Linked DNA regions of Homo sapiens. The protein of the gene in region 2 interacts with the protein of the main gene of each other region in a pairwise test. Each region holds a gene or a part of one and is shown on either strand. Other genes may lie near its edges. The genes, in order: TAB1 and ASRGL1.

Evidence for each region.
Region 1: the proteins of ASRGL1 (region 2) and TAB1 interact in a two-hybrid assay, tested with the Homo sapiens proteins (one large-scale study listed by BioGRID and IntAct).

What each region holds. Positions count from the first base shown.
Region 1 is NC_000022.11:39,423,550-39,427,373, reverse strand, and holds part of TAB1 (TGF-beta-activated kinase 1 and MAP3K7-binding protein 1), read right to left. Parts: intron 672-3,824; coding exon 449-671; intron 1-448. UniProt on the Homo sapiens protein: Key adapter protein that plays an essential role in JNK and NF-kappa-B activation and proinflammatory cytokines production in response to stimulation with TLRs and cytokines.
Region 2 is NC_000011.10:62,391,618-62,394,174, forward strand, and holds the end of ASRGL1 (isoaspartyl peptidase/L-asparaginase), read left to right. Parts: coding exon 1-15; exon of another isoform or gene 16-16; intron 17-461; coding exon 462-667; 3' UTR 668-1,795; downstream 1,796-2,557. UniProt on the Homo sapiens protein: Has both L-asparaginase and beta-aspartyl peptidase activity. May be involved in the production of L-aspartate, which can act as an excitatory neurotransmitter in some brain regions. Is highly active with L-Asp beta-methyl ester.

The DNA.
Region 1 (3,824 bases), on a different chromosome or scaffold from region 2:
TCTGTCCACATGCCTAATCTCTTCCAGGTCCCTTCATTCTTCAGCCTCAGTTTCCCTCTCTGGAAAACAGGGGTACCACCTGTCTTTAGGGTTGCCCATGAGGACTGAAGGGAATAAGGCAGGCTGTGTGCCTGGCACAAGGGAGGCACTCAATCAGTGGTGGCCATCATCTCTATTATGTGGCTTCAGGGCTCTGTGAATTGCTTGCTGGGGCACTCAGGTTCTGGGAGGTTGCCGGGGCAGGTGGTATTAACCTCATTTTACAGACAAAAGAGCAAAAATCAACACTCAGCTCAGAGAGGCTAAAAATCAGAGAACCTGAATTAGAGCCACTCAGAGCCAGGCCTCCTGACTCCATCTCCGTTTCAAGCAGCCTCGGGGGCTCTGCACCCACCTCTGGCCCCCAGATGGCATCCCCAGGCACTGCCTGTCTGCACAGCACACGTACCTGGGGCTGGGCTCGGTGTGGGCTGGCTCATTTCGCCCAGCGGGTAGCCAAAGTTCCTCACTAGCAGGGTCATGTCCTCGTGCCGGGGGCAGAACCTGGCACGCTCCCCACCACTGGCGAAGGTGTCGCTGTGGATGCGCTTCACCCGGTCCACGACGGCCTGGGCCACTGCGTCCAGGGAGGTCTGCTTGGCAAACTCAGTGTCAATCATCGCAGCAATCTCCTGGGGGAGGGGGTAGGAAGAACCTGGTAAGGAACGAGGTGCGGCCTGGGGGGCATGGGCCATAATCTTGGAGCCTAAAATCAGGAGATTCAGTGGTCAACAGCCCAGCAGGTGAAGGAAATGCCTGCCAGCCAAGTTTGCAATCTGAGCCTTTCAAGGTATTCAGGATAATCCTTCTGGAACTTTCTCATTAGGAAGTGTGTGCTCTTGTGATTGCTCTAATTGTTGGGTGCACACCTCTAGGATGGGGAGAACATCCATTTGACTGGGTGAATACGAGTATTAACTAACAGTGGTGTGAGAGCACTCTGCCAGCCACTAAAAAGCCTAGTAGCAAGTGTCATTATTATGAAACACTCTTTCCTGGAACAAACTTGTTGTAGGCGATGTTATACATGCTAGGATTTTGTCAGGAACTGGGGATACAGAATGAAAACAGGGTCCCTGACCTCAGAGAAGTCCCTGTCTAGTATACAGATGTTCCTCAATTTAGGATGGGACTATGTCCTGACAAACCCACTGTAAGTTGAAAATATCATAAGTTGACCGGGCACAGTGGCTTGCGCCTGTAATCCCAGCACTTTGGGAGGCTGAGGTGGGAGGACTGCCAGAGGTCAGGAGATCGAGACCAGCTTGGCCAACATGTTGAAACCCCGTCTCTACTTAAAAATACAAAAATTAGCTGGGCATGGTGGCACATGCCTGTAATCCCAGCAACTTGAGAGGCTGAGGCAGGAGAATTGCTTGAGCCCAGGAGACGGAGGTTGCAGGGAGCCGAGACCAGCCTGGCCAACAGGGCAAGACTCTGTCTCAAAAAAAAAAAAAAAAAGAAAATATCGTAAGTTGAAAAAGCATTTGGCCGGGCGTGGTGGCTCACACCTGTAATCTCAGCACTTTGGGATTCTGAGGCAGGCCGATCATGAGGTCAGGAGATCGAGACCATCCTGGCTAATACGGTGAAACCCCATCTCTACTAAAAATACAAAAAATTAGCCGGGCGTGGTGGCGGGTGCCTGTAGTCCCAGCTACTCGGGAGGCTGAGGCAGAATGGCGTGAACCCGGGAGGTGATCAGTAAGCCCAGATCGAGCCACTGCACTCCAGCCTGGGTGACAGAGCGAGACTCCATCTCAAAAAAAAAAAAAGAAAAGAAAAAGCATTTAATGCACCTAATCTACTGAACATCATCACTTAGCCTAGCCTACCTTAAATGTGCTCAGAACACTTCTATTAGCCTACGGCTGGGCAAAATCATCTAGCACAAAGCCTATTTTCATTATTATATAAGAAAATGTTGAATCCCATGTAATTTTTTTTTTTTTGAGACAGAGTCTCACTGTGTTGACCAGGCTGGAGTGCAGTGCTGTGATCTCAGCTCACTGCAAGTTCCATCTCCCAGGTTCAAGAATTCTCCCGCCTCAGCCTCCCGAGTAGCTAGGATTACAGGCGTGCGTCACTATGCACCAGATAATTTTTTTTTTTTTTTGTATTTTTAGTAGAGATGGGGTTTCACCGTATTAGCCAGGATGGTCTCGATCTCCTGACCTAAAGTGATCTTCCCGCCTCAGCCTCCCAAAGTGCTGGGATTACAGGCGTGAGCCACCACGCCCAGCCGAATCTCATGTAATTTATTGAGTACTGTTTTGACAGTGAAAAACAGAATGGTTGTAGGGGTATGGGAGCACAGTTCCCACTGAATATGTATCACTTTCTCACCATCATAAAGTTTCTTTTGGGCGGGGCAGGAGGGCAGGGACAGGTAATAGGAAATGACCTGCACCTGGTCCTGGTGGGCTCAGTTTCAACACTAAGCAGCAACGTCACTTCTGGCAAGAACCTGAACTCCGTGGACCCCAAATTCCCTACTCTACCTGGAAATAAGCCCCTGTCCCTCTATGTTATAAGGCTACTGGAAGGAATGGTAAGCTTATATAACAGGTAAAGAAATCAGAACACAGGCTGGGCGCAGTGGCTCATGTCTATAATCCCAGAACTTTGGGAGGCCAAGGCAGGTGGATCATCTGAGGTTACGAGTTCAAGATAAGCCTGGCCAAAAAGGCAAAACCCCATCTCTACTAAAAATACAAAAATTAGCCGGGTGTGGTGGTGGCACATGCCTGTAGTCCCAGCTACTCAGGAGGCTGAGGCAGAAGAATGACTTGAACCCGGGAGGTGGAGGTTACAGTGAGCCGAGATTGCACCACTGCACTCCAGCTTGGCCAACAGAGCAAGACTCCATCTCAAAAAAAAAAAAAAAAAAAAAAAAGAAATCAGAACACAGGGAACAGGGGATAGTTAGGCACTTGAGACTTTTTCGAAGTAGATCTGCATTCAATCCAGCAGTCTGGGCATCTACCTAAAGGAAAATAAGTCATTATATGAAAAAGATACTTGCACACGTATGTTTATAGCAGCACAATTCACAATTGCAAAGATGTGGAACCAGCCTAAGTGGCCATTGACTAATGAGCAGATAAAGAAAATGTATCTATAAACTATGGAATACTACTCAGCCAGTAAAAGGAAAGAATGAATGTCTTTTGCAGCAACTTGGATGGAGATGAAGGCCATTATTCTAAGTAACACAGGAGTGGAAAACCACAAACTATGTTCTCACTCGTAAGTGGGAGCTAAATGATGGGAATGCACAGGCATACAGAGTGATATAATGGAACTTTAGAGACTCAAGGCGGGAGGATGGCAGTGGTGCTAGGGATAAAACACTATACATTAGTTACAATGTACACTATAAAACACTATACATTAGTTACAACGTACACTATAAAACACTATACATTAGTTACAATGTACACTATAAAACACTATACATTAGTTACAATGTACACTATAAAACACTATACATTAGTTACAATGTACACTATAAAACACTATACATTAGTTACAATGTACACTATAAAACACTATACATTACTTACAATGTACACTACTGGAATAACTGGTTTACTAAGATCTCAGAATTCACCACTACATAATTCATCCCTATAACAAAAAAATACTGGTACCTCAAAAGCTACTGAAATAAAAATTAATTTTCAAATTTTAAAGAAGACTTTTTCCTCATGATATTGATTGATTGATTGAGACAGAGTCTTGCTCTGTTGCTCAGGCTGGAGTGCAGTGGTGCGATCTTGGCT
Region 2 (2,557 bases):
TCCACATAGAACAAGGTACACAGACCACAGGACAAGTAAAATAATTTGTGAAGATAAGTGCATAGAAGGTATTTGATAAGTAAGCGCATGGAGAAGTGTAGGAAACCCTTTCCTGTTGGCTACAGATGTTGCTTTCAGGCCGTTAACACCTTGTTTTGACTCTCCGCCTTCCCTTAGGTCTGGAATGGTAGAGCATTGAGTACTGTTATCTTCCACATCTCAGGAGAAGGGGGCAGTAGAGAGACATTGAGCCTGGATGTGGGAGGGAAGACCCCTCTGCTCAGGCTGATGCTAGGGCGCTGTCTCAGGGCAAGGAGGTGAGGACCCTCCTTTTAAGCATTCAGGCGTTCATTTACCAAAAATCCTTGCTAGCTCACTTTGGCATTTCAAATGGCAAGTGATTTTCCCATGAGATTCCTTTCAGTAATGTGTGTTGTTTCTCAACCCTTCCTTGTTTTCAGGAAAGACGGTAGAAGAGGCTGCGGACCTATCGTTGGGTTATATGAAGTCAAGGGTTAAAGGTTTAGGTGGCCTCATCGTGGTTAGCAAAACAGGAGACTGGGTGGCAAAGTGGACCTCCACCTCCATGCCCTGGGCAGCCGCCAAGGACGGCAAGCTGCACTTCGGAATTGATCCTGACGATACTACTATCACCGACCTTCCCTAAGCCGCTGGAAGATTGTATTCCAGATGCTAGCTTAGAGGTCAAGTACAGTCTCCTCATGAGACATAGCCTAATCAATTAGATCTAGAATTGGAAAAATTGTCCCGTCTGTCACTTGTTTTGTTGCCTTAATAAGCATCTGAATGTTTGGTTGTGGGGCGGGTTCTGAAGCGATGAGAGAAATGCCCGTATTAGGAGGATTACTTGAGCCCAGGAGGTCAAAGCTGAGGTGAGCCATGATTACTCCACTGCACTCCAGCCTGGGCAACAGAGCCAGGCCCTGTATCAAAAAAAAAAAAAAAAAGAAAAGGGAAAAAAGAAAGAAAGCAGCAGCATGATCCTGACATGACAGATGTGGGAGACCCACAGCCTGCAGACACTGTGGGCTGGAAGGTGGGAAGGGAGGGGCCGGTGGAGGTGGAGCTGTTTGAAAGTGACACAGCAGCAGTAGAAGCAGTGGTGGGCGAAGCCCAGGTGACCCTCAGAACGTTGCACAAGAACATCAGGGAAAAGAACCAGAATCCTTTAAGGAAAATGTTCTTCATGTATGAGAGACTAAAGTGATTTTTCTAAGAAAGTTCAGCCCTTCTCTGACTTACCTGGACATTTCTAGATACTTCCAAAGGACCCTCTGGGAATCCATAGCTTCCTAATCTGGAGATGGGAGGTCATAAGGGAGACGCTGTGGGGTTCCTTGAAGTTTCTTGGGTTCACAGAGGAGCCCCCTCACTTGGTGTTCTCCCGTGAGCCAGCCTCCACCTGCCAAAGACACTCTGGTCCTCGTATAGTGAGTAATGGGGCTCAGGGCCTCTCCAACAACAGAGAGGAGCTGATGCTGTAGGGCTGACCCCGTGACTTCCTGAGTCCTCACCCTGTCCAGTGCTTTGAGATTCTTCCCACCTCCCCATCCTCACCAGCCGGATCGGGCGCTGTGCAGTGTGGTCAGCATGGTGAAGAAAGTCATTTCCTCGGTGGGCAGTATTCCTCTTTATCTCTCATTACACTGGAAATGTTATTTCTGCTGTATCATCCGTGCTCAACGTTTTAGTCTGTCAGGCTCACCTTCTCTCTGGAAAGAATTTGCTTAACTTGACATTCCATGTGCCGCTAATAAAATATATTTTGAAAGAATAAGGGTGTGGTTGGGAGTCACTGTTGACAAAGACCAGAATGTACACGAGCTCCCCCCTTGGTCTCAGGTGTACTACAGAGACCTCGAGATGAGGATGGTGTGGAGGGTGATATGTGCCACCTTGTGGAGTACTCGTGAGTTTTTCAGAAGAACTGAACTTTTTCTGAGTGGGTCAAGGAAGAAGCCAAACCATGATAGGGTTTATGGCGCAGTCTTCCTGCAGTTTGCCAGCATTCACCCCAGACAGAGGTGCACAGTAAAAACCTCAACATGCAACAACTCCCCCTTTAGAAACAAGTATTTTATTAGGAGGTGTATTAGTTGAAGATTGCCACAACACGATTCCACAGACTAAGTGACTTAACCAACAGAAATTTATTAATATTTTCTCAGCTCTGGAGGCTAAAAGTCCAAGATCAAGGTGTCGGCCACGTTGGTGTCTCCCGAGGCCTCTCTCCATGGCTTGTGTAATAGCTGGCCATCTTCTCACTGTGTCCTCACATGGTCTTTCCTCTGTACGTGCACAGCCCTGCCATCTGTCTCTATATGTCCTAATCCCCTCTTCTTATGAGGACACCATATTAGATATAATTTATATATTATAATATATAAATTATATAATATATAAGTTACAATATATCTAATATGGTATATTTATTATATATTATAATTTATACAATATATAATATATATTATAATTTACATATATATTATATATAATAAAATATATAACATTTATATAATACATATATATTATATAT